7 linked regions of the Homo sapiens genome follow. The protein of the gene in region 1 purifies or fractionates together with the protein of each later gene. This does not show direct contact. Each region holds a gene or a part of one and is shown in the gene's direction. Other genes may lie near its edges. The genes, in order: PHLPP2, DMWD, EZR, PRKCB, USP1, RPS6KB1 and RDX.

What was found.
Region 2: the proteins of PHLPP2 (region 1) and DMWD purify together in Homo sapiens (affinity purification with mass spectrometry; one large-scale study listed by BioGRID and IntAct). This does not show direct contact.
Region 3: the proteins of PHLPP2 (region 1) and EZR purify together in Homo sapiens (affinity purification with mass spectrometry; one large-scale study listed by BioGRID and IntAct). This does not show direct contact.
Region 4: the proteins of PHLPP2 (region 1) and PRKCB purify together in Homo sapiens (co-immunoprecipitation; one study listed by IntAct). This does not show direct contact.
Region 5: the proteins of PHLPP2 (region 1) and USP1 purify together in Homo sapiens (affinity purification with mass spectrometry; 3 studies listed by BioGRID and IntAct, with this or other methods). This does not show direct contact.
Region 6: the proteins of PHLPP2 (region 1) and RPS6KB1 purify together in Homo sapiens (co-immunoprecipitation; one study listed by IntAct). This does not show direct contact.
Region 7: the proteins of PHLPP2 (region 1) and RDX purify together in Homo sapiens (affinity purification with mass spectrometry; one large-scale study listed by BioGRID and IntAct). This does not show direct contact.

The regions. Positions count from the first base shown.
Region 1 is NC_000016.10:71,654,729-71,659,073, reverse strand, and holds part of PHLPP2 (PH domain leucine-rich repeat-containing protein phosphatase 2), read left to right. Parts: intron 1-258; coding exon 259-421; intron 422-710; coding exon 711-841; intron 842-2,392; coding exon 2,393-2,503; intron 2,504-3,639; coding exon 3,640-3,834; intron 3,835-4,345. UniProt on the Homo sapiens protein: Protein phosphatase involved in regulation of Akt and PKC signaling.
Region 2 is NC_000019.10:45,786,171-45,790,515, reverse strand, and holds part of DMWD (dystrophia myotonica WD repeat-containing protein), read left to right. Parts: intron 1-3,644; coding exon 3,645-4,345. UniProt on the Homo sapiens protein: Regulator of the deubiquitinating USP12/DMWD/WDR48 complex. Functions as a cofactor that promotes USP12 enzymatic activity.
Region 3 is NC_000006.12:158,809,062-158,813,406, reverse strand, and holds part of EZR (ezrin), read left to right. Parts: intron 1-4,345. UniProt on the Homo sapiens protein: Probably involved in connections of major cytoskeletal structures to the plasma membrane. In epithelial cells, required for the formation of microvilli and membrane ruffles on the apical pole. Along with PLEKHG6, required for normal macropinocytosis.
Region 4 is NC_000016.10:24,090,460-24,094,804, forward strand, and holds part of PRKCB (protein kinase C beta type), read left to right. Parts: intron 1-2,331; coding exon 2,332-2,488; intron 2,489-3,703; coding exon 3,704-3,838; intron 3,839-4,345. UniProt on the Homo sapiens protein: Calcium-activated, phospholipid- and diacylglycerol (DAG)-dependent serine/threonine-protein kinase involved in various cellular processes such as regulation of the B-cell receptor (BCR) signalosome, oxidative stress-induced apoptosis, androgen receptor-dependent transcription regulation, insulin signaling and endothelial cells proliferation.
Region 5 is NC_000001.11:62,446,204-62,449,676, forward strand, and holds part of USP1 (ubiquitin carboxyl-terminal hydrolase 1), read left to right. Parts: intron 1-1,137; coding exon 1,138-1,308; intron 1,309-2,261; coding exon 2,262-2,463; intron 2,464-3,473. UniProt on the Homo sapiens protein: Negative regulator of DNA damage repair which specifically deubiquitinates monoubiquitinated FANCD2. Also involved in PCNA-mediated translesion synthesis (TLS) by deubiquitinating monoubiquitinated PCNA.
Region 6 is NC_000017.11:59,933,975-59,938,319, forward strand, and holds part of RPS6KB1 (ribosomal protein S6 kinase beta-1), read left to right. Parts: intron 1-195; coding exon 196-286; intron 287-459; coding exon 460-550; exon of another isoform or gene 551-554; intron 555-1,218; coding exon 1,219-1,326; intron 1,327-2,240; coding exon 2,241-2,303; intron 2,304-2,489; coding exon 2,490-2,567; intron 2,568-3,603; coding exon of another isoform or gene 3,604-3,652; exon of another isoform or gene 3,653-3,800; intron 3,801-4,345. UniProt on the Homo sapiens protein: Serine/threonine-protein kinase that acts downstream of mTOR signaling in response to growth factors and nutrients to promote cell proliferation, cell growth and cell cycle progression.
Region 7 is NC_000011.10:110,233,551-110,237,895, reverse strand, and holds part of RDX (radixin), read left to right. Parts: exon of another isoform or gene 1-191; coding exon of another isoform or gene 192-243; coding exon 244-404; intron 405-1,704; coding exon 1,705-1,797; intron 1,798-4,345. UniProt on the Homo sapiens protein: Probably plays a crucial role in the binding of the barbed end of actin filaments to the plasma membrane.

The DNA.
Region 1 (4,345 bases):
AACAGGAAGATGTTCCTGCCCACAAGATCCAACAGCCCTTGAAACACACTGAGGCAGATCAGGCTTAGTTATAGCAGGAGTAGTTATCTTCTTGAGCCATTGCCTTTCCTGGTATTCCTGGTATCGGTTTCATTTCTCACCAGTCATCTGGCAGTGGACCGTGTCGGCCTTCTGTACTCTGTGGCTGCTGTAGAATAGCACTTCCTTGGCAGCTGCTCAGTCTTGGTGCATTATAGTATTCTGTTGTTTCTTTTTCAGCAAACTAAATAAATTGGAGCAATTGGAGGAACTGAACCTAAGTGGCAACAAGCTTAAAACCATTCCCACAACCATAGCAAACTGTAAAAGGCTGCACACCCTTGTTGCACACTCCAACAACATCAGCATTTTCCCAGAAATACTGCAGTTGCCTCAGATCCAGGTACTTCTGTGTGCTGGAATGATGTCCTTATTGGGGGAAATGGCAGGAGAGTGAATGACATTATTTTCCTTTTATAAAGAAGAAGAAAGGAGTGTGAATGAGATTATTCTTATAAGGAAAAATATTATTGTCTTCTTATGTGCTCCAGTTTGGGACCAGAATTTATGTAATGGATTCCTGGGAAGAAATTAAGTTCCTCTTTGGGGATATAGTAAGAGATTGGACACTTGGGAGTAAAGAACTAAGTCTCTGTGATGTATTTTCTTTTGATTTCTCAATTTTTTCTTAGTTTGTAGACCTAAGTTGCAACGACTTGACAGAAATCCTGATTCCAGAGGCTTTGCCTGCTACATTACAAGACCTTGACCTGACTGGAAATACAAATCTGGTTCTGGAACACAAGACACTGGACATATTTAGGTAGGAAAAAATTTGAAATGGAATCTCTATGTGCTCTTAGCCCACCAGCCATGTGTAGGTCTTCCTTAGTACTGTGGAGATCTTGATTAATTAAAAGAACAGAATGAAGTTAGGCTATAAAGCCCCTAGGTTCTCTTCTTTGATTAAGTTATGAATAGATGTTCTATCCAGTAGTCAACCTGTTTATATTAGGACTACTCCATGGCTACTACCCCCCAACATACTGAATATTTTCACAACAGGCATAGATGTTTTAGGTGGCACAGATTATATAATATCTAAGAGACAATACAAGTTCATCCATTGTACCAAGACTTCATTGTATCAAAATACTTAACATAAATAGATGGTTGGCTAAAACATAGAAATCTTTGTTGTGCTTAGTTTTTTATTGAAACTCCTACCCCTTTGATCCTCCTACCCCTTTCCTTTCTCTCCCCTCCTTCTTTGCCAGTAGTTCAGCATACTACTTTCATCAGTCTCTCTGGAAATGAATCTTAGTCAGTCCATAGATTATTTTATTAAAAGATAATATTATTGGCCGTGTGCGGTGGCTCACGCCTGTAATCCCAGCACTTTGGGAGGCCAAGGTGGGTGGATCACGAGGTCAGGAGATCGAGACCATCCTGGCTAGCATGGTGAAACCCCGTCTCTACTAAAAATACAAAAAATTAGCCGGGCGAGGTGGCGGGCGCCTGTAGTCCCAGCTACTCAGGAGGCTGAGGCAGGAGAATGGCGTGAACCCGGGAGGCGGAGCTTGTAATGAGCAGAGATCACGCCACTGCACTCCAGCCTGGGCGACACAGCGAGACTCCTTCTCAAAAAAGAGAAAAAAAAAAAGATAATATTATTGTTGGCCGGGCGTGGTGGCTCACGCCTGTAATTCCAGCACTTTGAGGGGCCAAGGTGGGTGGATCACCTGAGGTCAGGAGTTTGAGACCAGCCTGGTCAACATGACAAAACTCCATCCCTATTAAAAATACAAAAATTAGCCGGGAGCGGTGGCTCACACCTGTAATCCCAGCACTTTGGGAGGCCGAGGCGGGCGGATCACTTGAGGTCAGGAGTTCGAGACCAGCCTGGCCAACATGGTGAAACCCCGTCTCTACTAAAAATACAGAAATTAGCTGGTTGTTACGGCAGGTGCCTGTAATCCCAGCTACTTGGGAGGTTGAGGCAGGAGAATCGTTTGAACTCAGGAAGCGAAGGTTGCAGTGAGCCGAGATTGCGCCACTGCACTCCAGCCTGGGCAACAGAGGGAGATCGTCTCAAAAAAATAAATAAATAAAATAGAATAAAATAAAGAAATACAAAAATTAGCCGGGCATGGTGGCATACACCTGTAATCTCAGCTGCTTAGGAGGCTGAGGCAGGAGAATTGCTTGAACCGGGAGGCAGCAGTTGCAGTGAGCTGAGGTCACACCACTGCACTCCAGCCTGGGTGACAAGAGGGAGACTCCATCTCAAAAAAAAAAAAAGAATACTATTGTTGGGATAGTTTTTGTAAAATACAGAAGAATATATGGTTTAATCTTCCTTCACCTCCCACAGCCATATCACAACCCTGAAAATTGATCAGAAACCTTTGCCAACCACAGATTCTACAGTTACGTCAACCTTCTGGAGCCATGGACTGGCTGAGATGGCAGGGCAGAGAAATAAGTGAGTATATTGGCCATGGAGACTGAGAAAGAAAAAAGGCAGCCCCTGGCATCTGAGAACTGGCCTGATGCTCATAATAGCTAGGCCATGTTGTTCTGTTGTACACAGACAAATCATAGAACATCAGCGTCAGATAAGATCCCTTTGGGATCATGATAACGTTTTAAGACAAAAACAATACTAATGTGTAGTCAACAGAATACCAAACACCCCCTTTCATGGCTAAGATGGGTAGATGCTACTTTCTTTACCAGTTACAGCTTTATCCTTCTGCTAATTTTCCTTCCCTATAGATAAGTTTTATACCCAGCAATAGAATGGCCTCACTTTCTGATGACACCCAGTCTAGTATGATCCTCTTCCTTAGACCCTCCCCAAAGTGACCAAACCAAAGTCCAAACCCTATACTGGGTTCTTTTCAGCAAGACTTACCTGTATACCCCGGGGTTCCATGGGGTGCACTCTCATTTGCTATAAGGGGTAATAAACTCAACTTTTTCAACCATAGGTGTGCTCTGGTGGTCTTTGACTGATAGGCCTTGACAAAGCTAATCCTTAGTCACTACTAAGAGAAAGTGCTTTATCTTACCAGCCTTTGGCAGCATTGCAAAGCTAATATGTACTGCCCATGAATGCGACTGTTTCCCCTTTCCTTAGGACATTAGCTCTTTCAGATGTTGCTTAATTATCATGTCTAGGGACTTTTCTTACGTGTAGATTACGATTTGCTAGTAGTCTTTGCCACCTTTAATTAATACTTACTTTTTAAAAGAATGCTCCTGGCCAGGCGCGGTGGCTCACACCTGTAATCCCAGGACTTTGGGAGGCCAAGGTGGGCGGATCATGAGGTCAGGAGATCAAGACCATCCTGGCTAACATCTCTACTAAAAATACAAAAAAATTAGCCCAGCGTGGTGGCAGGCACCTGTAGTCCCAGCTTCTCGGGAGGCTGAGGCAGGAGAATGGCGTGAACCTGGGAGGTGGAGCTTGCAGTGAGGCAAGATCATGCCACTGCACTCCAGCCTGGGTGACAGTGCAAGACTCCCTCTCAAAAAAAAAAAAAAAAAGAATGCTCCCTGGAGAATAATATTTTACCAGTAACTTTTCTGTTTTCTGTTTTCATGTTTCTATTATAGGCTGTGTGTCTCAGCACTTGCTATGGATAGCTTTGCAGAGGGGGTGGGAGCTGTGTATGGCATGTTTGATGGAGACCGAAATGAGGAGCTCCCGCGCCTGCTGCAGTGTACGATGGCAGATGTGCTTTTAGAAGAGGTACAGCAGTCAACTAATGACACAGTTTTCATGGCTAACACCTTCTTGGTATCTCACAGGTAAGCAGGTGGGTTGAAAAATCCCTAACTCAGTTCTACTTTTGGAAAATATATTTTTCTAAACCAGAAGGTCAGGGTCTAAATTATGGATACAGGATCAAGGAGAGAACTCACGTTGTTGTCTTCTATGATCATTCTCTATATGAGCATGGAGTGCGGGGACTTCGGCTCTTTCAAAAGCCTGTGGGGGTCATCTGTTTTCTCTGTTGAATCCAAAGGCTGCTGAGGATCTGGGAAGCCCAGAATTTATGTGCAAAATGTTGTGTGTGTATATATATGTGGTTGTACATTTTGAGGAGGAAGGTGGTCAGCTTTCATAAGATTGTCCAAGCAGTCAGTGACCTACAAAACAGTTAACCAAATACTTATCAGATTGATAACGTTTAGAATGCCTCTTTCTGGGGTTTTACCAAACTAATCTTCTAAGTAAAGTATAAGCCACTTAAGGGCAAAAACCATATACAGATGCTCCTCAACTTAGAATAGGGTTACACCCTGATAAGGATGTAAG
Region 2 (4,345 bases), on another chromosome or scaffold:
ACGCCCGCCTAATTTATTGTAGTTTTAGTGGAGATGGGGTTTCACCGTGTTAGTCAGGATGGTCTCGATCTCCTGACCTCGTGATCTGCCCACCTCGGCCTCCCAAAGTGGTGGGATTACAGGTGTGAGCCACCATGCCCGGTTCTTTTTTTTTTTTTTAATTGTAATTGTAATTTTTATTGTTTTTAATTTTTTTTTTCTTTTTAAGGCGGAGTCTCACTCTGTCGCCCAGGCTGGAGTGCAGTGGTACAATCTCGGGTCACTGCAACCTCCGCCTCCCAGGTTCAAGCAATTCTCCTGCCTCAGCCTCCTGAGTAGCTGGGACTACAGGTGCGCACTATCATACCTGGCTAATTTTTTTTTTTGAGATGGAGTCTCGCTCTGTCGCCCAGGCTGGAGTGCAGTGGCGCGATCTCGGCTCACTGCAACCTCTGCCTCCCGGGTTCACGCCATTCTTCTGTCTCAGCCTCCCCAGCAGCTGGGACTACAGGCGCCCAGCACCACGCCCAGCTAATTTTTTTGTATTTTTAGTAGAGACGGGATTTCACCGTGTTAGTCAGGATAGTCTCGATCTCCTGACCTCGTGATCTGCCCGCCTCGGCCTCCCAAAGTGCTGGAATTAAAGGCGTGAGCCACCACACCCGGCCAATTTTTGTATTTTTGGTAGAGATGGGGTTTCACCATGTTGGCCAGGCTGGTCTCAAACACCTGACCTTGTGATCCGCCCACCTCGGCCTCCCGAAGTGCTGGGATTACAGGCATGAGCCACCGCGCCCGGCCATTCTTTGAGTTTTCATCAACCAGTGGATACAGAAGTGTGCTGCCCATTTTGCAGATTAGAGAATTGAGGCTAGTAAATAAGTCGGGACTTAGTTGATGCCCTTGCTCTTTGAGTTCTGGGCTCTGGAGGCTTTGGATTCAAAGCCCTGCTGCACCATTTACTCATCATGTGACTTTGGGAAGGTGACCATTCTCTGAGCCTCACTTCTCCTCCTCTGCAAAATGGGATTCCAGTTCCTACCTTGCAGGACCGCTGTTGTAGAATCATACATGGAGATTGCTCAGTCCTGGGCCAACTTGGCCTACGAGGAGATACCAGTAAACGACCTTATCCGCGGGCAGGGACTGCTCTTGGCTTCTGTCTCATTCTCTCTGGTCCAGAGGAGGTGTTCCATAAATATTCTCAGAATGAGTGAATGGCTGAAGGGAGTGAACGGAACAGTCAGTGGATTAAAAATTCATTAGCTCATCCATTCACAAATAGTTTTTGAGCATCCGTTCTGTGCCAGGCACCGTTCCCAGCACTAGGGATATCACATCTCAGGGCCCTGGACAGGAGGCCCTGCCCTTTTGGAGCTTTCAGTCTAGCTGGGGAGACAGACAGTTAATCAAGTTAAGTCTTCGTGTGTCAGCAGGTGATTAAGGCCTGTTTAGAAGAAGCAGTGGGGAAGGGGCTGAGGGAAGCTTGGAGAGTTTAGTAGGGTGGTCAGGAAAGCCCTCACTAAGAGGTGATACTGAAATAAAGACCTGAAGGAGGCAGGTGAGAAGAGTTGCCTGGGGAAGGGCATTTTTTTTTTTTTTTTTCCTGAGATAGGGTCTCACTCTGTCGTCCATGCTGGAGTGCAGTGGTACGATCTTCGTTCACTGCAACCTCCGCCTCCCAGGCTCAAGCAGTCCTCCCATATCAGCCTCCTGAGTAGCTGGGACTACATGCATGCACCACCACAACTGGCTAACTTTTGTATTTTTTGTAGAGGCGGGGTCTCTTTGTGTTGCCCAAGCTGGTCTCGAACTCCTGGGCTCAAGCTATTCTCCTGCTTTGGCCTCCCAAAGCGCTGGGATTATAGGCGTGAGCCATCACACCCAGCCAAGAAGGACATTCTGAGTATCGGGGCCAGCTAGGACAAATGCAGGATTGCACAGAAGCCGTGTGGCCAGTGCAGTTACTGAGGGAGAGAAGATGGTAGATGAGTTCCAAGAAATAACGGAGGGGCTGGCTCATGGAGAGTCTGGAAGGTCACGGAGAGATTTTGCCTTACTCTTAGTTGGAAGCCTGTGGAGGAGCCTTTCTCATTGGGGCTCACCTGAGCCCTGGAAGGCAGAAGTGACTAGAGTGATTATTTGTTCAGTTCTCCCAGGGATGGGAGGCACCTCATCCTGGGAGAGCAGCTCCTTAGTTGCATACACTGGCTGCCTGAGAGCATTAGGGCCTCAGGCTCTGGAACCCTGCTTGAGAGAGGCTGCGAAGTGTTCAGAGCAGGACAGTGCCAGGTGCTGGCTGATACTTCACAGAGCATCGCTGTGGCGGCTGCAGAGGACAGACAGGCCCAGGCATTGGAGCCTGAGGCCAGTCACACAGCATTGCAGGCTTGGGGTGGTTGAATGGGATGGTGAGAGGAGGTCAGATTCTGGGTGTATTTTTTCTTTTTTTTTTATTTTGAGGTGGAGTCTCGCTCTGTCGCCCAGGCTGGAGTACAGTGGCATGATCTCCCCTCACTGCAACCTCCGCCTCCCGGGTTCAAGCAATTCTGCCTCAGCCTCCTGAGTAGCTGGGACTATAGGCGCCCGCCACCATGCCTGGCTAATTTTTGTATTTTTAGTAGAGATTTTGTATCTCTACTTGTATTTCACCATATTGGCTAGGCTGGTCTGGAACTCCTGACTTTGTGATCCGCCTGCCTCAGCCTCCCAAAGTGCTGGGATTACAGGCGTGAGCCACCACGCCCAGCCACTTCTGGGTGTATTTTGAAGGTCGAGCCCACAGGATTTGTGGAAGGATTGGATGAGGAAAAGAGGGGCAGATGCCGAGGTTTTTTGTCTAAGCACCTAGCGGGATGGGGGGTTGTCACTCATTTGTCCAGGAATTACCTTCAAGCTGCCTCCTGTGTGCACTGCTTTAAAGAATAGTGAACCAAACAAAGATCGCTTCCTTTGGGGAGCTGCCTTTCCGTGAAGAAATTTCCTACTTGAAGCCTGACGTAGTAAAGATCGGGGGAGGGTTAGACAGATACAGTGGTCCCCAACCATTTTGGCACCAGGGACTGGTCTTATGGAAGACAGTTTTTCCACAGACTGTTGGGGGGATGGTTTTGGGATGAAACCGTTCTGCCTCTGATCATCAGGTGTTAGATTCTAATAAGGAGCGCACACCTAGATCCCTCGCATGCATAGTTCATGGTGGGGTTCGCACTCTTACGAGGATTGAATGGTGCGCTGCTCCGGTAGGAGGCTGGGCTCAGGCTGTAATGCCTGCTCGCCCACCACTCACCTCCTGCTGCATGGCCTGGTTCCTAACAGGCCACGGACCACTACTGTTCCATGGCCCGGAGGTTGAGGACCCCGAGATACAGGACAATTCTGTGGCAAGCAGGACTGTCCCCTCGCCAAAGATGGGACATCGAGGCTCCTTGGAGCACCCTGTGGCCACCTTGCAGCAGCCTCTGTTTCCCCATGTTTCCATGACCTGGTGTCCATCTGTCTTCCCCAGTTTGGGAGCTTCTCTCCGAGGAGGACCTGGGCCTGGTGTGGCACCTGCTGTGTGAGCGGGGCCATGTCCAACGGCCTTCTTGGGGACTTTGGGTCGGGGAGAAGTTCTGCCTGGGTTTTACTGCCTTCTCCCAACCCCACACTGTCTCCCCTGGCAGCGGTTGATCGACAAGACCAAGGTGACATATCTGAAGTGGCTGCCTGAGTCGGAGAGCCTGTTCCTGGCATCACACGCCAGTGGCCACCTGTACCTGTACAACGTCAGCCACCCCTGCGCCTCGGCCCCGCCCCAGTACAGCCTGCTGAAGCAGGGCGAGGGCTTCTCTGTCTATGCTGCCAAGAGCAAGGCACCCCGCAACCCGCTGGCCAAGTGGGCGGTGGGTGAGGGGCCCCTCAACGAGTTCGCCTTCTCGCCCGATGGCCGGCACCTGGCCTGTGTGAGCCAGGATGGCTGCCTGCGCGTCTTCCACTTCGACTCCATGCTCCTGCGTGGGCTCATGAAGAGCTACTTTGGGGGCCTGCTGTGTGTGTGCTGGAGCCCTGACGGCCGCTACGTGGTGACGGGTGGCGAAGATGACCTGGTCACCGTGTGGTCCTTCACCGAGGGCCGCGTGGTGGCTCGAGGCCATGGCCACAAGTCCTGGGTCAACGCTGTGGCCTTTGACCCCTACACCACAAGGGCAGAGGAGGCGGCGACAGCAGCCGGTGCTGATGGGGAGCGGAGCGGCGAAGAGGAGGAGGAGGAGCCCGAGGCTGCGGGCACAGGCTCGGCCGGGGGCGCCCCGCTCTCTCCACTGCCCAAGGCTGGCTCCATTACTTACCGCTTTGGCTCGGCGGGCCAGGACACGCAGTTCTGCCT
Region 3 (4,345 bases), on another chromosome or scaffold:
TGGATTTACAGTCTGGTTTCGGGGACAGACAGCAATCCCAGAGTAAATGTAAAACTGCAGCTTCAGAGAGTATGCCTGAAGAGGGGTACATGAGGCCTGAGAGTAGATGAAGTGTGTATGTGCTGGTGGGGGTGCAAATAGGGGAGGTCAGGAAGGCATCCTTGAGGACGTGACCTCCCTGGGCAGAGGTAACAACGTGTGCAAAGGCCCTGTGGTGGGAGGAAGTAGTGTGAGTTTGGGGTTTCACATGAAGCCCAATGTGGCTAGAGAGGAAGACAGGTCAGGCCATGCCTTGTAAGCCATTCTTGGGTGTTTTTTAGTTTAACTTGGGGTTTTGACTGGGAGGTGACATGATCAGATTTGCCTTTTGAAAAGTTGACTGTGATCTGTAATAGGAAAATCACAGGAGGCAGGAGACAGCAAGGGTAGTTATGGTAGACCATTGAGGGAGCTCATAGCTTGGACCAAGGTGGTGGTGGTGGGAACAGAAGTGGATGCATTTGAGAGTTCTTTGGGAGGTAGAATTGATAGTGCCTGGTGATGGGTTGGATATGCAGGGCCAAGGGTGGTGTCGAGGCTGACTTCTCGTTTCTGGCTTGCGCAAGTGGATGTGTGGTGGTGCCATCGCTGAGGTAAGTAATCCTGGAGAAGGACCAGGTGTGGGGGAAGGTGGGGAGTCTGGATTTGTTGTTACATGTTAATAAGTTTGTGACAATCGTTGATGAAAAAAGTCCTTGCCTTCTTTCATTACTACATCCACTGCCCCCCAAAATATTAAAGGACCAGACTCCTTAAACTACGTTATTTTTAAATCCAAATAATTCAGTAGCTTTTTGTTTTCCCTAGTATATGTACACACCGTACATACCTAAAGTTAAGAGGAAGGGTTAATTTAGTGCAGTGTTCTCAAAATTTTGTGTACACAATTGTCTGGAGACTGTTGATTCCTGGGTCCCTTGAAGAACTAATGACTTCCATCTCTAGGGTGAGGTGCAGGCTGGGTGCTTATGTTTTAAATAAGCTCTCCAGATGGTACTGCTGATTCAATAGGAAAAGGGCAGTTATTATATATTCCTTTCTCCTGCACCCCAATCAAGCCCAGTGTGATTTCAGAGCACCCATTTGGGTGAAAGCAGTCACTTGATGCCCAGCCGCCTTACAGTCCGGCTGAAATGCCAGGAGTGCTGTTATTGGTATTTGGGACTCGAATAGGGGCTAGGATGACTCTGTGAAAAAGAGCCATAAAAACAAGAATTTCATAGCTAATTTACTGCTTACCTATACTTGGGCAGGCCATTCAACATAATATTCTTCTGACTTGAGTTTCTCTCTGCAGGGAGTCCAGTAACAGCTTCATTTGGCAGTGCCCAGTGGTCTCTCACATTTTGGCTCTTTGTTTTCAAAGAGAAAAAAAGAGGCTAGACCTTCCCTATAAATGGTAGGGAAGTAAGAGATCCCATTCCTTGTTCCTCTTTTATTCCTTCCACACTGGCCTCTTTTGTTAATGAAATAATGTGAATTTTTTTTTTTTGGAAACAGGGTCTCACTCTGTCACCCAGGCTGGAGTGCAGTGGCACAGTCACAGCTCACTGCAGCCTCAGTGCCCCGGCCCCCACCCTTGGCTCAAGTGATCTTCCCACCTCAGCCTCCTGGGTAACTGGGACCACAGGCACACACTACCACACCCAGCTAATTTTTTATTTTTTTGTGAAACAAGATCTCACTGTGTGGCCCAGGCGGCTAGTCTCAAATTCCTGAGCTCAAGCTATCCTCCTACCTTGGCCTTCCAAAATGTTGAGATTATAGGTGTGAGCCACCATGCCTGGCTGATAATGTGATTTCTAACAAATGTTGAATAATTATAGTTTGGGAAAGGAAAACAGTATCATTTAGTGAACTATAATTTTTTTCTTAATTTTTTTAACTTAAACTTTTATATCTCTTTGACAATTTGGAGATTCTTAGGGTGGTTTGATATACCTGCTTTCTAATGGTAGTTAGATGTTTCAGCTCTATTCTGAAGCAGTGAAATTCAGTCTGCTTTCTAATGGTAGTTAGATGTTTCAGCTCTATTCTGAAGCAGTGAAATTCAGTCTGCTTTCAAAGTCAGTGAATGCATTTTGAATTATCCCTTATTTCATTTCAGTAGTAACTACCTTGAGACTCCCCAAGTACTCCAATTAGTTTTTAATTTCAGCAGTAAATGTGTGTTGAAAAGACCAAAGTTTGCATTATTTTCCTTCTGATGTATTTACCATCCATGCCTGTTGACATAAAAAGATTTTTCCAGACTTGGGTAGTTTTCAGAACCAAACAAAACCCTTGTGCTATAATGTGACTTAGAGACTTTTGACTGAAATGCTTGATATAGTTAATACACATAATTTTTTTCAAAATGAAACCACAAAGAGCTATAAAGAGAATTTCATAGCTAATTTACTGCTTACCTGTATTTGGGGAAGCCATTTAGCATCTGTGAACCTAAATTTCGTCAGCCGTAAAATGGGAGTTAGTTTTTAAGTGGAAAGAATGTTACATAAGATAAACGGAGACAAAGTTTTTATCAGTGAAATCCAAACAACTCATCTTAAGATGCTGTAAGCTTTATGTGTTTCTTTTGTGTTTCCCTACCCCGCAAATGTTTTTCAAACTTAACCCTGTTAGGTAAAAACTCTGGGTTCCTATAAACGGGTAAAGTTTGTCCATTGGTCTTCTCAAGGAAAAAGCAATATGAACAGTTTGGGTTATCTTAGTAAAAGGGAGGACTCTGATTTTGTCTCATGTCCATCCTCTCTCTGTGTGTTCTAGTCGGAATTCCCTTATCAGTCACATGGGTACCACCTTCATGTTTTGAAGCGCTATTATATCCCATTATGTGCTTGGTGCAGGGACAATAAAAATAAGATTGGTTTTGCCTTTAAGGAGTTCTCAGTCTCCTAGTGAAAGCAGATATGTAAGCAATTACAATGCAGTGTAGTGCATGATAGAGGTCTTCACAGAAGAGAAGTGTGCCCTGGAGACCAGGGAGGGCCTCCCGGCTGGTAAGATCCTTTGGGTAAGTGTGGAGGGATGTGGGCTTCCCAGTCAGCAGTGGTCAGTTCTGTTTTCCTTTATTCATTAACCCGTTCTTAACACTTACAGGCAAACAGTAATGCTGTTTCAAAGGAAATGTAAAACTTCATTAAGTTATCCTTTTAATCTAATATACTTGAAAACAAAACCTTAAAAGCAAAATAAAAAATATCTCACCATGACCCACCTTTTATTGATAGGAGAGGAACCAGTATCACCTGAGGATCAAACTCTAGTAGTCAGTATATCAGATTTTGCTCATATTTTTAAGTTAGAAGTCACTTCTGCAACCTAATTTTGTTTTCCATTTTTGCCTGAGAGATCAATTTTAAACTGCCTGTGTGGACAGTTGTCATTTCAGATACTGTAAATAATTGTTTTTACTTTAGGATGGGGTAGGTAAACTATCATCTTAGGGCCGAGTCTGGCTGTGGCCTGTTTTTATTTGGTCTCCCAGCTAAAAATGGTTTTTATATTTTTGAAGGATTTTAAAAACAACAATATGCAACGGACTCCAAGTAAGACCCTCAAAGCCTAAAATACTTACTGGCTGGCTCTTTAGAGAAACAAATGGACCAACTCCTGCTTCTAGCATAAAAATAATTATTGTTAAGCATTTATTCTAACCTTGTATATATTTTATGGCTGGACTAATATTTGGAAGCAGATCCACCCCATTGGTTCCAGTTTTTAAAAAATTGTTCTCAAAGAACAGAATGTGTTTTGTTAGCCAATGTTGAGCACATCATGGACTCTGAGCATGGACTCAGAAACTACTGAGGAGAGGCATCGTGGTGCTGAGGTAATGTTTTAAACAAAGCTGGTGTTTGGGTGGGTCTTTGTGTAGAGAAAGTGGCAGTATCTTGTGTCACACTTGCTAAGCTATTGTGTAATGACAGATTTCTGGCATATGCTAAAAGAAAGCAATTTGTACCTGATGTTTGAGTTGGAAAGAGAATGTTATGTAAATGAATTGCTTTTTTCCTCATTGATAGTTTAAAATGAGCTTTTGATCTACTATAGTCTGTATGTGAATTTCTGACTGCAGATGTTTTGTAAGTCCATTCCTGATTCAGAACACCCTGTCTAAAGTACAGCTCCATCTCTGTGCCGTGCCCCACTTTACTGCACTCATAGAACTCGGTCTCCACCTATAACGCTGTCAGGTGCTTGTTTATTTGTGCTTTTTGTCTTTTCTGGCAGCAAAGCAAGAGGATAGGTGTTGTTTTTGTGTTTTTGAGATGCGGTCTTGCTCTGTTGCTCAAGCACGAGT
Region 4 (4,345 bases), about 48 Mb from region 1:
GGACAGGTATTTGAATTTAAGTAGGGCTGGGGTCATGTGAGACAAGTAAAATAAAAAGAAAGAGGGGCAAGGGAGTTGAGGGTCTTTCCAAAGGAGTAGCTAAAATGCACCATAAAATTGAATCTGGATATGAATGGAGTAAAAGCAAGAGGGAATAGGGAGATCAAGAGAATGTGTTGGGTTCGAGGGACTGATTGGTGGAGAATGGACTGACGAATAGGGGAAGATTTATTGCAGTAGAATAATAGAACTAATGAATTGGAAAAATAGAAATTGGTGTAAGATAGTAGGGTACTTGAAACTGAGATTGAGAAAGTGGTATAATTTCTGGGATAATAGGCTCCAGAGCGTGACCATGGTAGGAGATAACTATGATTGGGGGTGAGCAAAGGTTGCAGGAAATGAGGGGGTGCTTTCTCTCCTACTTTCCAATATTCTTTCTTCTAATCTGTTTTTCTTGTTATCTTGAGTTTACAAAATTTCTGGTTTTATTTATGCTGTGGATATTTTTCCAGCCTTTTCCCTATGGGCTGTCTGGGTGCAGGTTATGGGTGATACATGGATAATAGGTGCATCTTGGTTTAGAGGGTAACTCTTTATTTCTTACTGCACTTATGGAACACGAGAAAAAAAAGTATTAAATAATGGCTATGGTAATGGATATCTTTGTCTTATTCCTTACTTTAATGGAATTGCATTTATCATGAACCATGGTGCTGTTATTTCAGATAGCCTTTATCCTGTTAAAATTCTCTGCTGTTTCTAGATAACTACAATGATCTTATGGTTTTCTTCTTTGATCTATAAATATGATGAATATATTGAAAATAGATTTCCTAAGATTGAACCATCTTTGCATTCCTGATAGGAGTCATTATGTATTCACCTTTTAGCAGATAGTTAGAGTCGATTTGGATTGAATGTATTACTGTGGATTGTTCTACTGTAAGTGAGATGATTGACATTGTATCCTTAAGAGCTGTGCAATTCTCATTTTCTAGTCTGCTTCCATTGACTACCTGCATTACTGGTTTCTGAATTGATTCCTAATTAACTACTTCCTGTTTCTCCAAGCTGATGATTTAGTCTCCCTCATCCTTTCTATAGCCAGTTGCATCTTCACTGCTGATTCCCTGCCTCCTTTTCTCCTGTAAGTTCATCTTTTTTTTTTGACGGAGTCTCACTCTGTCGCCCAGGCTGGAGTGCAGTGGCATGATCTTGGCTCACTGCAAGCTCTGCCTCCTGGGTTCATGCCATTCTCCTGCCTGGGCCTCCCAAGTAGGTGGGACCACAGGCACCTGCCACCATGCCTGGCTAATTTTTTTGTATTGTTAGTAGAGACAGGGTTTCACCATGTTAGCCTTATAGCCTCTTTACCTGGGTGTTCTGGAGTCAGGGTGGAGCTGAGCTCTAATGCTGCTGACATTGTTCCAGCCTTCTCTCTATGGGCTGTCTGGGTGCTGGTTATGGGTGATACATGGATAATAGGTGTACCTTGGTTTAGAGGGTAATTCTTCCTTTCTTTAGCTTTTTCTTTTTGAATGGAGGTAAAATTAACGTAACATAAAATTAACCATTAACTGTTTTTAAACGTACAATTCAGTGACATTTATAGAATATTCACAGTGTTGGACAACCATCATCTCTATCTAGTTCTCAGAAATTTTCATCACCTCTAAAAGAAACCCTGTACTCATTAAGCAGTCACTCCCCATTTCCCTTTCCCTCCAGCCTCTGGCAACTATTAATAGTAGTCTACTTTCTGTCTCTATGGATTTACCTGTTTGGGATGTTTCATGTAAATGGAATCATACAATATGTGACCTTTTGTGTTGGGGTACACAAATGTTCATAGCAGCAGTATTCACAACAGCCAAAAAGTGGAAACAACCCAACTATGCATCAACTGCTGAATGGATAAACAAAATGTGGGATATCTATACAATGGAATATTATTCAGTCATGCAAAAAAATGAAGTGCTGATACATGCTATAATGTGGTGAACTTTGAAAACGTTATGCTAAATGAAAGAAGCCAGCCTTTCCTGTGGGCTTTGTGGAAAATAAGCTTAGAAAACTTACAGTTAATCTTGGTATGGGAAGAGCAGTGTAAAAGTCAGAAATCCATTTTTAACCAACACAGACCAGAGTTGACATCTTATCAGCCCATCTCATTTTGTGCACTGCTTCAGCTATGGATGTTAATAAAATTAAATTTCTCACTAAACAAGTGTGATGCCAAAGAACCTTCCACAAGTTCTGCAGCTGTCACTGCTTGGTGCTTAAACATGTTGGACAGTATTAATGCAAAAACTGCTTTTTCTTTTTCAGTAAGAGATGCTAAAAACCTTGTACCTATGGACCCCAATGGCCTGTCAGATCCCTACGTAAAACTGAAACTGATTCCCGATCCCAAAAGTGAGAGCAAACAGAAGACCAAAACCATCAAATGCTCCCTCAACCCTGAGTGGAATGAGACATTTAGATTGTAAGTGGAAATGACTGCAGTGAGCATGGGTGGTGGAGGTTGGGTTATGTGCCACCTGAAATCAGGGAGTTCCTCCTCCCTTAGCTCCTGTTTCCTTCCTTCCCTACCTCCCTCCTTTTCTGTCTTCTCCATCCCTCACTCCTATCTTTCCCTCCCTTCTTTTCCATCTGCAATTTTGTATTGTGAGCCAAGAAAAAAAATTAGAGCTATTTTTTTAATAGAGATGAGAATGCCTGTGGTGTGGGGGAGTGGGTAGGACAGGAAATGGTGTGATGTGTTGCTAAGTGAAGGCAAGTTGTGGGAGAAATGATGGGGCTCAGCAAATAGGGGAACATAACCTACAGGGTGTGGTGACAGCCTCTCTAGAGTTGGGTTTATGGATGATGCTTGGCCTGCAGCCTTCTGGGACATCTCCACCAGCCTCCCTTGAGGGTCTTCCCTGGCCAGGGCTCCAAGAATCTGGGAGTCTCTTTCTTGTACATCTAGGCATCAGGAGTTGGTTATAACAGCCAATTCACTGAGCATATATGATGTGTGACAAACACTGGGTTAAGCGATCCGACTTCATCGGCTCATTTTATTCCCAATGTAGCAATAGGGCTTATAGAGGTTAAAGAGTATGCCCAAAGTCCCATAGCAAATATGGGGTGGAGTGGGATTCAGCTTCTGGCAGTCTGACTTTAGCGGTCATACTTTTTTAGCCACCAGCTAGAAGCACAGTTCCTTGTCCTGTCTCCTCTTCCCTCTCTCAGGGCAAAGCTGGGCCCCTTCTCAGCCTCAGTCAAGGACATGTCTCAGAACAGACAATTTCCCCAGGATTTTTCTCCATGCATTTCCTCAGCCTCATTCTCAACCCACCTGTGTGCAGATATACACATGTACACACCCAATTATGCAATTGATATCTGTATTTCTTATAGGCAATAGGAATTCCTGAATATCCTGAACCCTATTAAGACATAAGATAACAAAAGTAGTTAGAACTGTTCTTGTCATAGCCAGTCTAAGACCTCTGCCTGTTTAAGCCACAGGCTGTCAAACAGAAAAAGCTCTCACTCCCTGGAGAGCTAGCCTGGGATGGAAACTGAATATGTTTCTTTCAGCAGCTTGTAATCTTTAAAACTTTCTACCTCCAGGTCTTGTCCTCTTGTACATTTATTCTGCTTGAGAAATTACTACAACCTCCACTGATGTCTTTTCTTTTTCTCTATGCAGTCAGCTGAAAGAATCGGACAAAGACAGAAGACTGTCAGTAGAGATTTGGGATTGGGATTTGACCAGCAGGAATGACTTCATGGGATCTTTGTCCTTTGGGATTTCTGAACTTCAGAAAGCCAGTGTTGATGGCTGGTAAGTAAGATTTTGCCTTGAAAGCTACCATACAGCTTGCTCCATCAAACGCGGGGTCAAGTATGTTTTCCTTTTTCTCCAAAAATTGAAATACTAAAACAGAGTCCCAAAGTGAAGTCTGGTTGATTGGATCTGCCTTGCAGATATGTTTTGTTTGGTCCTTGTACTAAAAACAAAAAAGAAAGAGGCCAGGCCTCGTGTCTGACACCTGTCATCCCAGCACTCTGGGAGGCCGAGGCAGGTAGATCACTTGAGCTCAGGAGTTTAAGACCAGTCTGGGCAACATGGTGAAACCCCATCTCTATCAAAAACATGAAAAATTAGCTGGGCATGGTGGTGTGTGCCTGTAGTTCCAGCTACTCAGGAGGCTGAGATGGGAGGATCACTTGAACCCTGGAGGCAGAGGTTGCAGTGAGCAAGGTGGTCAGAGATTGAGCCACTGCACTCCAGCCTGGGTGACAGAGTGATAAAAAAGAAAGAGAGAGAGAGAGAAGGAATGAAGGAAGG
Region 5 (3,473 bases), on another chromosome or scaffold:
AACTAGATGCTAGAGCGTACTACACAACTAGCCTATATGGTATAGACCAGGGTATCTAATCTTTTGGCTTCCTTGGGCCACACTGGAAGAAGTGTCTTGGGCCACACCACACAGAATACACTAATGATAGCTGATGAGCCAAAAAAAAAAAAATCAAAAAAGTCTCATAATGTTTTAAGAAAGTTTATGAATTTGTTACGGGCTACAGGCAAGCTTTGCATGGCCTATTGCTCCTAGGCAACAAACCTGTATAGCATATAACTACTGAATACTGTAGGCAACTGTAGCACAATGGTATTTGTGTATCTAAGACGTATCTAAGCATAGATATGTAAACATAGGTACAGTAAAAATAATCATAGACTACTGTCATATGCGGTCCATTGTTAAATAATTGAAACGTTGGTAGGTGGTGCATAACTGTAAGTTACACGATACTTGAACTAGATTTTTACCTAGTTTTGTCCAGATCTACAGATATCAGGGAAAATGTGTAATATTGATATAGTGAATAGTTTTACCAAAAATGTCATCCTTATTCTGGGTTTATTCTATGGGGAGGTGTCTGTAGGAAGGGAGTTACAATACAACTGACTTTTTTTTATTTTTTATTTTTTTTATTTTTTTGGAGACAGAGTTTTGCTCTTGTTGCCCAGGCTAGAGTGCAATGGCATGATCTTGGCTCACTGCAACCTCCACCTCCCGGGTTCAAGCGATCCTCCTGCCTCAGCCTCCCGAGTAGCTGTGATTACAGGCATGCACCACCACACCCGGCTAATTTTGTATTTTTACTGGAGACAGGGTTTCTCCATGTTGGTCAGGCTGGTCTTGAACTCCGACCTCAGGTGATCTGCCCGCCTCAGCCTCCCAAAGTCTTGGGATTACAGGCTTAAGCCACTGTGCCCGGCCTACAACTGACTTCTTTTAAAGACAGTAATTTCATAGTCAGTTTTATCTTTACAGGGACCTTAAATTTCATTAATAGGGTACCTCTAATAAGCTAATAATGCTAATAAGCTGATCTATGAAAATGGAACTGTTATTCATGATATACTTTATTTAAATGGAAAATTGGTTATTTGGACTATAATGAGAAACTAATCTGTATAGACTTACATTTTCCTATTTTCATTTTAGGTGAAGAACAAATTGGTTTTGAGCTAGTGGAGAAATTATTTCAAGGTCAGCTGGTATTAAGGACGCGTTGCTTGGAATGTGAAAGTTTAACAGAAAGAAGAGAAGATTTTCAAGACATCAGTGTGCCAGTACAAGAAGATGAGCTTTCCAAAGTAGAGGAGAGTTCTGAAAGTAAGCAAAATTGGAGTCTTGTGTGGACCATGATGGAATATTTATAATTCTTTAACAACACAAAGTTTAATAGTAGCTGGTGTAATTAGGGAGGGGAAAAAAGCTAGCTTTTAGTGTCTAATGTAACCTTTCTGCTTATCTGGCTTCACTTATAAATGGTTAGCATTTGGGAAATTGTGACATCTTGATTTTGATGTAGAGTGTGTTAGAATGGAAAACTGAAATGCTTTAATAAGTGTACTTTTGGGAACCTGAGTCTTTCAGAGCTACTGAGGGTTTTTTTTAATTTTTTTGAGATGGAGTCTTGCTCGGTTGCCCAGGCTGGAGTGCAGTGGCGTGATCTCGGCTCACTGCAAGCTCCGCCTTCTGGGTTCATGCCATTCTCCTGCCTCAGCCTCCTGAGTAGCTGGGACTGCAGGTGCCCACCACCACGCCCGGCTAATTTTTTGTATTTTTAGTAGAGACGGGGTTTCACCATGTTAGCCAGGATGGTCTCAATCTCCTGACCTCGTGATCCGCCCGCCTTGGCCTCCCAAAGTGCTGGGATTACAGGCGTGAGCCACCGCGCCTGGCCTACTGAGGTTGTTTTTAACACAATAATTGAGCCACTGTTGTGTCTAGAGCATACCACAAAATATGGAAATACCATAGGAAATAATCATGAGACAGGTTTACCTATCACATATTGAAAGTTGGCAATTAAATGTAAACAGACTAGGCTTATTTTGTTTTTGCTGTCTATCATATTTTTTGGCCGATCAAATATATTTAAAAGGTATGTATACTGTTGAGGATGCACTTATGAAAGTAGTTTCTGAAAGTAAAAATCTCTTTAGTTATTTAGGAATGGGTCGGTCAATTGAAATTAAATGCTAATTTTGAACCTGAAACTTTGTGGTTTATTTTTTGAATGCCTGAGAGAAGTATTTGAGTGAAAGGATTCTCTTTTTTAGTTTCTCCAGAGCCAAAAACAGAAATGAAGACCCTGAGATGGGCAATTTCACAATTTGCTTCAGTAGAAAGGATTGTAGGAGAAGATAAATATTTCTGTGAAAACTGCCATCATTATACTGAAGCTGAACGAAGTCTTTTGTTTGACAAAATGCCTGAAGTTATAACTATTCATTTGAAGTGCTTTGCTGCTAGTGGTTTGGAGTAAGTATTGTAAATAAGAACTATATGAAGAAAATGAGCTGCTGTAGAAGATAAGTCTTGTTCAAAATGCTGTAATAGTAGGAATATAAAGTACTGAAATGAAGTAGATTGTAAAGATTGCTTCAGTAAAGTTTTGTTCTTATTAACAGTTTCCCTGTAAAAATGAAACAACTTAAATCCTTTTGATATGAATACATATTCTATTAAGTATGATTTCTTCTCCTTTTTTTTTTGAAACAGGGTCTCATTCCAGTTGTCCAGGCTGGAGTGTAGTGGCACAGCCTCAGCTCACTGCAGTCTTGACCTCCCAGGCTCAGGTGGTTCTCCCACCTCAGCCTTCTGAGTAGCTGGGACTACAGGTGCATGCCACCATGCCCAGCTAATTTTTTGTATTTTTAGTAGAGACAGGATTTCACCATGTTGCCCAGTCTGATCTTGAACTTCTGGACTCAAGCAATCCACCTGCCTTAGCCTCACAAAGTGCTGGGATTACAGGCGTGAGCCACCATGCCCGGCCAGTTTCTTTATTCATCTTTTCATATTCATTCCCTCTTAGATGTTAGTAGCAGAATTCAGTAGAACTGACTAAAGCAGGGAACAAATTTTGTATACATCAAGATTTTTTTGAAGGGGCGGGAAAGGCTAAATTCTTCCTAGTTTTAAGGTAAGCCAGGAAATCAAACTAGTCTTTCAACAGTTTGAAAAAAAATGCTGATTGTTTTGGATAGTCTGTTTTTTTCTGACATGTGTAATGTCATTGTATGTGTGACTCCTTTGTACATTAGTTGCTTGTTTGAAATTACCACGAGGGCTTCACAGTAGCTCTCTCACACTTGATTATGTCAAAAGATAACATATAGCCCCTTATTCAGTGGACCTTCCCTTTGCTAATAGTATAAAATACTATTTTATTTACTTTCCCAAATTTTGGTAGAGAAAAACTTCACACTAAAAATGACTAAAATGGGCTGGGCGTGGGTGGCTCACACCTGTAATCCTAGCACTTTGGG
Region 6 (4,345 bases), on another chromosome or scaffold:
CAAAAGGTGACTTTGCCCTAGCCTTAAACAGTTAGCATCCCATTTTATGGATGGTACCTTGTTCTTGACATCTGCAAGAAAATTTGAGGCAAGAAAAGTTAAATGGAAGGATAGATTAAAGTATTATGTGACATGTTCAAACACTGCACATACTTATAATTCGGAGAATAATCATGCTGTAATCTTTCATTGTAGGTCATGTGAAACTAACAGACTTTGGACTATGCAAAGAATCTATTCATGATGGAACAGTCACACACACATTTTGTGGAACAATAGAATACATGTGAGCTACATGTTAAACATAATTGGTTTGGGGGTAATAGCTAATTTTACCTGTTTTAAGGAATAGTATCTGTTTTCTGTACCCTCATTGACTCTGTATATTGTTTTTAAAATTCTAATTCAGATGATATGCAAATGGGTGAATTTTTAAGCATATTATTTTCCTCATTGTAGGGCCCCTGAAATCTTGATGAGAAGTGGCCACAATCGTGCTGTGGATTGGTGGAGTTTGGGAGCATTAATGTATGACATGCTGACTGGAGCAGTAGGTGCACAGTTAAAAGCTGCATGTATTATTGGTCTGTGCTGAGTCACTATAGCAAGAGACCTGTCCTGTGCTTTCTGAACATGTTACCAGTGGAGTTTTCAAAGCCCAAAGATTTGTTATTAGCAGTTTAACACTAATAATGCTGTATGATTATATGGGATCCCATACTTTCCGAAACATTTTCTTTTAAATGATCTATGTCATGGCAGGCCTGTGAAATAGATGTTGAATAGATAATGCCCTTATTTTATAAATGGAGAAATTGAAGCATAAAATCACATAGCTCACTTATCACACAGAAAGTTAATGGTGGAAACACAGGCTTCCTTCCAGGACACTGCTACTTCCTCTGTCCTGTTGCTTAAAAACTGCACGTCTGCCGGCCACAGTGGTGCATGCCTGTAGCCTAAGCTACTCAGGAGGCTGAGGTGGGAGGATCATTTGAGCTAAGGATTATTAATAGAATCTAGCCTTGACAACATAGTTGAGACCCTGTCTGTAAAACAAAATAAAGGTCTTTAGCAGTTAGCCCATTTCACAGCATACATTTCTGATCTCCATGTATAACTAATTTAGGAAATGGATAATATTATTCAAAATTTGTTTCTTATATGCTAATATTTTTCTCTCCCTGCTAATATTTTTCACTTGTCTTCTACTCTTAGCCCCCATTCACTGGGGAGAATAGAAAGAAAACAATTGACAAAATCCTCAAATGTAAACTCAATTTGCCTCCCTACCTCACACAAGAAGCCAGAGATCTGCTTAAAAAGGTAAGGTTCTTAAATGGTCACTGACACTACAAGATTCAATGACTAGGATTTAACTAGATAGAATTTAATGTATATTTTGAATAAAGAGTCATATATAAATATTGAACAAAAAAGTCTTCAATTTTTGAAGGCGAAGTACAGATTTGTTTAAAGACTTTCTTTTCATATTCTTTTTTTAAATTTTTTTTTTTTGAGACAGGGTCTTGCCCTGTCACCCAGGCTAGAGTGCAGTGGTGCGATCTTGGCTCACTGCAACCTCAGTCTCCCAGGTTCAAGCGATTCTTCCGCCTCAGCCTCTCAAGTAGCTGGGATTACAGGCACCCGCCACCACGCCCGGCTAATTTTTGTATTTTTAGTAGAGACAGGGTTTCACCGTGTTGGTCAGTCTGGTCTGGAACTCCTGACCTCAGGTGATCCACCTGCCCTGGCCTCCCAAAGTGCTAAGTGCTGGGATTACAGACCCTTAAACAATATTAAGTAGTAATTAGTAAACTATATTTTCTTTTCTTTTCTTTTCTTTTTTTTCTGAGATGGAGTCTTGCTCTGTCGTCCAGGCTGGAGTGCAATGGCATGATCTTGGCTCTCACTGCAACCTCCACCTCCCAGGTTCAAGTGATTCTCCTGCCTCAGTCTCCCTAGTAGCTGGGATTACAGGTGTTCACCACCACGCCAGGCTAATTTTTGTATTTTTAGTAGAGAAGGGGTTTCACCATGTTGGCCAACCTCGAACTCCCAACCTCAGGTGATCCACCTGCCTCAGCCTCCCAAAGTGCTGGGATTACAGGCATGAGCCACTGTGCCTGGCCAATAAACTATATTTTCTCAAGCCAAAGTAGACAAGCACAGTCTAAAAAGGAAAAAAAAAAATCAGTTTGACTAAGGTTCTTTATCCAAGCTTTTTTTCCTCTTTAAAGCTGCTGAAAAGAAATGCTGCTTCTCGTCTGGGAGCTGGTCCTGGGGACGCTGGAGAAGTTCAAGTAGGGATTGGCATCTTTGGTGTTTTGTGGGGAAGATAATGCTAGTTTTATGTATTTCTGAGGGTTATATGTAGTTGCTTATAAGTTTAGCTTATTTTGTGACTTGTAACTTCAAAAAGGTGATTAATTTATCAATCCAGCAAAGTCTAGTCCCCTCAACTTTTCTTCCTGCTTTTTTTTTCCTAGGCTCATCCATTCTTTAGACACATTAACTGGGAAGAACTTCTGGCTCGAAAGGTGGAGCCCCCCTTTAAACCTCTGTTGGTAAGTATACATGAAAGTGTATAATTGGGTGCAGTGGCTCACGCCTGTAATCCCCAAACTTTAAAGGGCCAAGGTGGGAGGATTGTTTGAGGCCAGGAGTTCAAGACCAGCATGGGCAACATAACAAGACTCCATATCTACAAAACATTTAAAAGTTAGCTGGGTGTGGCGGCTTGTGCCTGTAAGTCCCAGCTACTTGCAAGGCTGAGGCAGGAGGATCGCTTGATATTTTTTTAGAATAAGAAAAATCTCAGAGCAGACAGAAACATTATTTTTATTAGCAGTTCAAAGATCTCTGGTCTATCCTCTCCAGCATCTTTATTTTATTTTATTTTGAGATGGGGTCTCACTCTGTCACCCAGGATGGAGTGCAGCAGCACGATCACAGTTCAATGCAGCCTTGACCTCCCCAGGCTCAGGTGATTCTCCCACCTCAGCTTCCCAAATAGCTACGACTACAGACACGTGTCACCATGCCTAGCTAATTTTTTTGTATTTTTTATAGAAATAGGGTTTTGCCATGTCACCCAGACTGGTCTTGAACTCCTGGGCTCAAGTGATCCACCCACCTCAGCCTCTCAAAGTGCTGGGATTACAGGTGTGAGCTTCTGCACCCAGCCAAGCATCTTTTATTTTTGTACTATCTTGTAAAGAACTAAACCCAGTGGCAATTGACTGTATTAGCTATTTTTAAGTCAGTTACCTAAGACAAATATTTCAGGTAGTTGGGACTTTCCTTTTTTTGGTTTGTTTTATTTTGCTTAATTTAACCATTTTAAATATGATTCTCTGGGAATTTTTTCTTCAAAGTATAGAATATGTGTGCATTCGTTTGCTAGGCTTGCTGCAACAAAGTACCACAAACCGGGTGGCTTAGACAACAGAAATTTATTATCTCATAGATCTGGAGACTAGAAGTTCTAGATCACATTGTTAGAGTTGGTTTCTTTGACTACTGTGAGAAACTGTATGTTCCATGCCTCTCCCCTGGCTTCTGGTGGTTTGCTGGTAATCTTTGTCATTCTTTGGCTTGTAGGTGCATCACCCGGATCTCTGCCTTCATGTTCACATGGTGTTCTACCTGTGTGCATATCTGTGGCCAAATTTCCCCTTTTTATAAGGATACCAGGCATATTGGATTAGGGTTCCTCTCTACTCCAGTAGGACCTCATCTTCACTAATTACATCTGCAATAACCCTTTCCAAATAAGGTCACATTCTGAGGAACTAGAGGTTAGAATTTCAATGTACGAAATTTTTTGGGGGTGGGTAAGGCACACGATTCAACCCATAACAATATGTTTGTGAGTAAATCAGTTAGTGTGTTAGTTATTGTCCTTCTCCCACCTCAGAATCTGAGAAAATACAGTTTCTTTTTCCATTCCTTAGGATGTAGTTGGAGAAGGAGGAGGATGATGATGGTGATTATTTTTTGGTCATGGAGCATAATGTCCCCACTTTAAAAAACAACAAACAATTGTAAGGAAGTTAACTGTCATATACCTACTGCCCAGCTTAAAAAATGATTAGGTCATCTTGTTTAAACATAACTGCCATCCCATCATCACACCTCAGAAGTTGACAGTTTCCTTAGTTGTTTTTTTTTTTTTTTCCTTTTTCTTTTCTTTCTTTTTTTTTTTTTTGGGGGGGGGATAGGGTCTTTCTCTGTTGCCCAGGCTGGAGTGCAGTGGCATGATAGTGGCTCATGGCAGCCTCAACCTCCCAGGCTCAAGGGCTCCTCCCGTATAGCTGGGGCCACAGGGATGCATCACCACATC
Region 7 (4,345 bases), on another chromosome or scaffold:
GGAGGCTGAGGCGGGAGGATTGCTCGAGCCCATGAGTTCGAGGCTGCAGTGAGCTTCTGCACTTCAGCCTGGGCAACAGAGCGAGACCCTGTCTCAAGAAAACAAAGAGGTATATATGTATTTACATGTGTGCTAACTTTTAGAAATTGAACAGATTTGATTTCTTGCTACTATTTTAGCTTCTTTTGATAATGAGAATGATTGGAATTAATCACTGTTGGGGGGAATACACATATTTCATAGAACTAGAAGAACAGACTCGAAAAGCTCTAGAACTGGATCAAGAACGAAAACGAGCAAAAGAAGAAGCAGAACGACTTGAAAAGGAGCGTCGAGCTGCTGAAGAGGCAAAGTCTGCCATAGCAAAACAAGCTGCCGACCAGATGAAGAATCAGGAGCAGCTAGTAAGGAACTGTCTTCTTAGAGAAAAAAGTTTAAATAAAAGCATAGAGTGAACCCTCTAAAAAAGAAAAAAAGAAAAGCAACCATTTTGTGCTTTCTGGAGAGCAAGCCAAAGATAACATGTAACTTAATAACAAAATGTAGACAAAAACCTAGAAAATTTATTTCTGCCTAAACAAAAACCTAAAAATACAAAAGAATAAGGCATTTTTCTATAGATTATTTGTAAATGGAGTCTACTGTCAGCAAAAGGTTCTGATTCACTTTGACATTGGACAGGTTCGGTAATAAGTCAGTTGGCGTCTTTTGCTTTAGATAAATTAATATGTTATAGTTATATAATATAGATATATGTTATAGTTATATAATATATTATAGATATATAATATGTTATAGTTCCTATGAGGCCATAATTGGTTGGGTTTTTTTATTTAGTGGACTTGCAAATAATTAGATGTAAGCGTGTCACTTAAAAGATCCTGGATTTAAATATTAGTTCACACATGTACTTGCTATGTATGTGTCTTTGGGTCTTTCTGAGCCTCAGTTCCCTCCCTTTGAAAAGAGGAATGATGGCCGGGCACAGTGGCTCACGCCTGTAATCCCAGCATTTTGGGAGGCCGAGGCAGGTGGATCACCTGAGGTCAGGAGTTCAAGACCACCCTGACCAACATGGCGAAACCCTGTCTCTACTAAAAATACAAAATTAGCCAGGCACAGTGGTGCACGCCTGTAATCCCAGCTACTCGGGAGGCTGAAGCAGGAGTATTGCTTGAACCTGGCAGGCGGAGGTTGCGGTGAGCTGAGATTGTGCCACTGGGCTCCAGCCTGGGTGACAGAACGAGACTCTGTCTGAAAAAAAAAAAAGGAGGAATGATACTACCTGTTAATGATACTACCTGTTAGGATTATTGGGGTATTAAATGAGATGATTTGACAAAGTGCCATTTAAAGTATATAGCATTAGATAAATATTTTATCTTTTGTGGACTTTAACAAATAGTTTATTGATGGAAATTTTTTAAAAAAGCTTTTAAGTTACACATTTTAAGTTCCTGCTACTGAAAGCAGGATTAACTAGTCTGTAGAATAATAGTAATTTTTTAATTTTGTCTCCTTAGCTCATTACCTAAAGGACTTATTGTAAATAAGCTATTTAAGATCTTAAGAAATACTGTATTTTTTTAAATGGAAGGCTAAGAAAAACATAAACAGCCTAAGCATGTGCATTAAAACTTTGTTGACTTATAAGATTATTCAAAATATGTTATTTTAATTTTGGAATTATATTGTTTACTTTAGGCAGCAGAACTTGCTGAATTCACTGCCAAGATTGCACTTCTAGAGGAAGCCAAGAAGAAAAAGGAAGAGGAAGCTACTGAGTGGCAACACAAAGTAATCATTTATTCATTTACTAGCTTTTATTGAATAGCTTTTATACCCAGGATTATGCTGACTTTGTAGTGATAAGTGTAAGATACTGTCATAATTTAGAGTGGGAAAGATACTCGTGTTATGTGTATTGTAAATATCTATCTACAGATATAAACCAAGTACTTTGGGAACACAGAAGAGGTGATTAATTTCTGGGGGACCAGAGAGTTGTCGGGAGACCCATATACATTTAAGCTGGGTCTTGAATAATGAATTAAATTTTGGGGGTACAAAAGATTGGGATGTAAAATTGGGAATAGTTAGAGACTGAAGAAGTAGTCATTCTAGACAGAGGGAACTGAATGAGTATAGGAAGTATGAATGTATATAATAGATTTGAGGATAACCAATAAGCAGCCGAGGCTTAGTGTTGTTCAGAAATGTTAGGAGATGTGGCCCTCAAGTTTGATAATAGGGAATTGTGAAAGGCTTTAAATAAATGCTCTGCTACAGCAAGGCAGTGGGAGTATCGATTGACTTGGGGCTTAGAAGATTTCAAAACAGGATTGTAACATGATCAGATATGATTTTATAAAAACCATGTAGTGATCAGTGTGAAGAAAGGATTGGGATAGTGGATACTTAAGAGATAAAGACCCAAACTGAGGATGTGAAAATGAGAATAAAGAGGAATGGGAAGATATAAGAGACATTTTGTGGTCACAAAAAGGCATGGGAACCAGTGATTGGATATGAAGTTGAATTATTTTTATTTTTTTAGAGACATGGTCTTACTCTGTGTCCCAGGCTGGAGTGCAGTGGCACAATCATAATTCATTGCAGCTTTGAACTCCTGGGCTCAAGGGATCCTCCCACCTCAGCCTCTGCAGTAGCCGAGACTACAGGCATGCACCATCATTTTTATTTTTGTTGAGAATGGAGGTCTTGCTGTGTAACCCAGGTTGGTCTTGAACTGCTGGCCTCAAGCAGCCCTCCCATCTCAGCCCCCAAAGTGCTGGGATTGTAGGTGTAAGCCACTGTGTGCAGCTGACACCGAGATTTCTAATATGAGTCCTAAGTAGATGAAACCACTGTTGTCTAAAGTAGCACACAATTGTAAAATCAGGCTTTGGTTGGAGAGTGGGGGAATATAAGATAATGAGAGTTTAATTCAAACAACATTAACTCTTAACTGAAAAGATAATTTTTTTACCCCCAAAGATGATATTTAGTTTTAGAAGATGATTTTTCTACAATAAAATGTACTTATACAGAAAACAGTTTTCTTGCACTCTTAAGTAAATCTTTGTAGCAGTTTAAATTTCATTGGGTAATTTTATATGTATTGAAAATTAGTTATATATAAATAAAACTACAAAAGGAATGCTACTGTTAATTTCCCAGTTACTCTACTTGTTTATTAGAATTTTTTAGATCCCTTTTAGGGATGATTTATGAAATTTAGAGACACATAAACTTTAAAAAATTAGCATATTACAGATATCAAGTCTGTGAATTATAGAAAATTAGAAAATGCACACAAAAGACAATTGTATTCCCATAAACTAGGGGAAATACTGCAAAACCTTAGTACATATTCTTCCAGGATACTTCCTGTTTATATATTCAACATGAAATCTTACTGTATGTACTATTTCATTTTAGTCAATTTTCATCTCAGAATATTAGACTATATTAAGAATTTCCCAAAAAGTCTCATAGCTAATTTGCCAGACAAGTGTTCAGAGGACTTTGCATTGTCTGTATTTGCTGTAAGTCTCTTTTAATGGAGGGCAGTTTCTCTTTTTATTATTTTGATTTATTGAAGGGACCTACAGAATGTCTCACCTCCTATATTTGTTTAGTTACTTCCTTGTGTCATTGACCTTATCCTTTAACTCCAGTATTTCCTTTGAACCAGAAGTTAGATCTAGAACCTGGGGAATTCAAATTAAATGTTTTGACTACAGTGCATCAAAGGTGAGACTTCCATATAATTGAACATCTAAACTGGAGTACTTTTGAGAAAAAGGGGGTATTGTTCATAATTACACCAGGACAACAGTGTAACAGGACTTTTCCAGGTAAACCAAGATAATATGATCACCCAAATAATTGGTGATGTTAGATATTTCAGGTTGTATCATATCAGAAGACACTTAATATCTAGTTAACTCACCATTAGTATTTTTTAGTGATCATTGGATTTGAGTAACGACAGTCTCATTCCTCCGTTATTCGGTTACATTTTCCCCTTGTGGCTCAAATAAAATCTATTGGGTGTGAGATTCTTAGGCATTATATGAATATCTATTTCTCATCAACTATTTGCACAACAGTTTTAGCAAACAATTGATAATCCTTGCCAGAATTAATAGTTCTTTTTTTGCATGTATGCTTGTTTTTCTTTTAATCTGTCACTTTGAAGCTCACAGAGTAATTCTAATAGGGTTTGCATAATAATGTTTTTGATTTTCTCTTTTACCTGTTGACATTCTTTTATGAAAATAGAGGTTTCATAAATAGGGCCTATTTTCATTACCTTGAAATACAGTTTCTATTAAAAAGG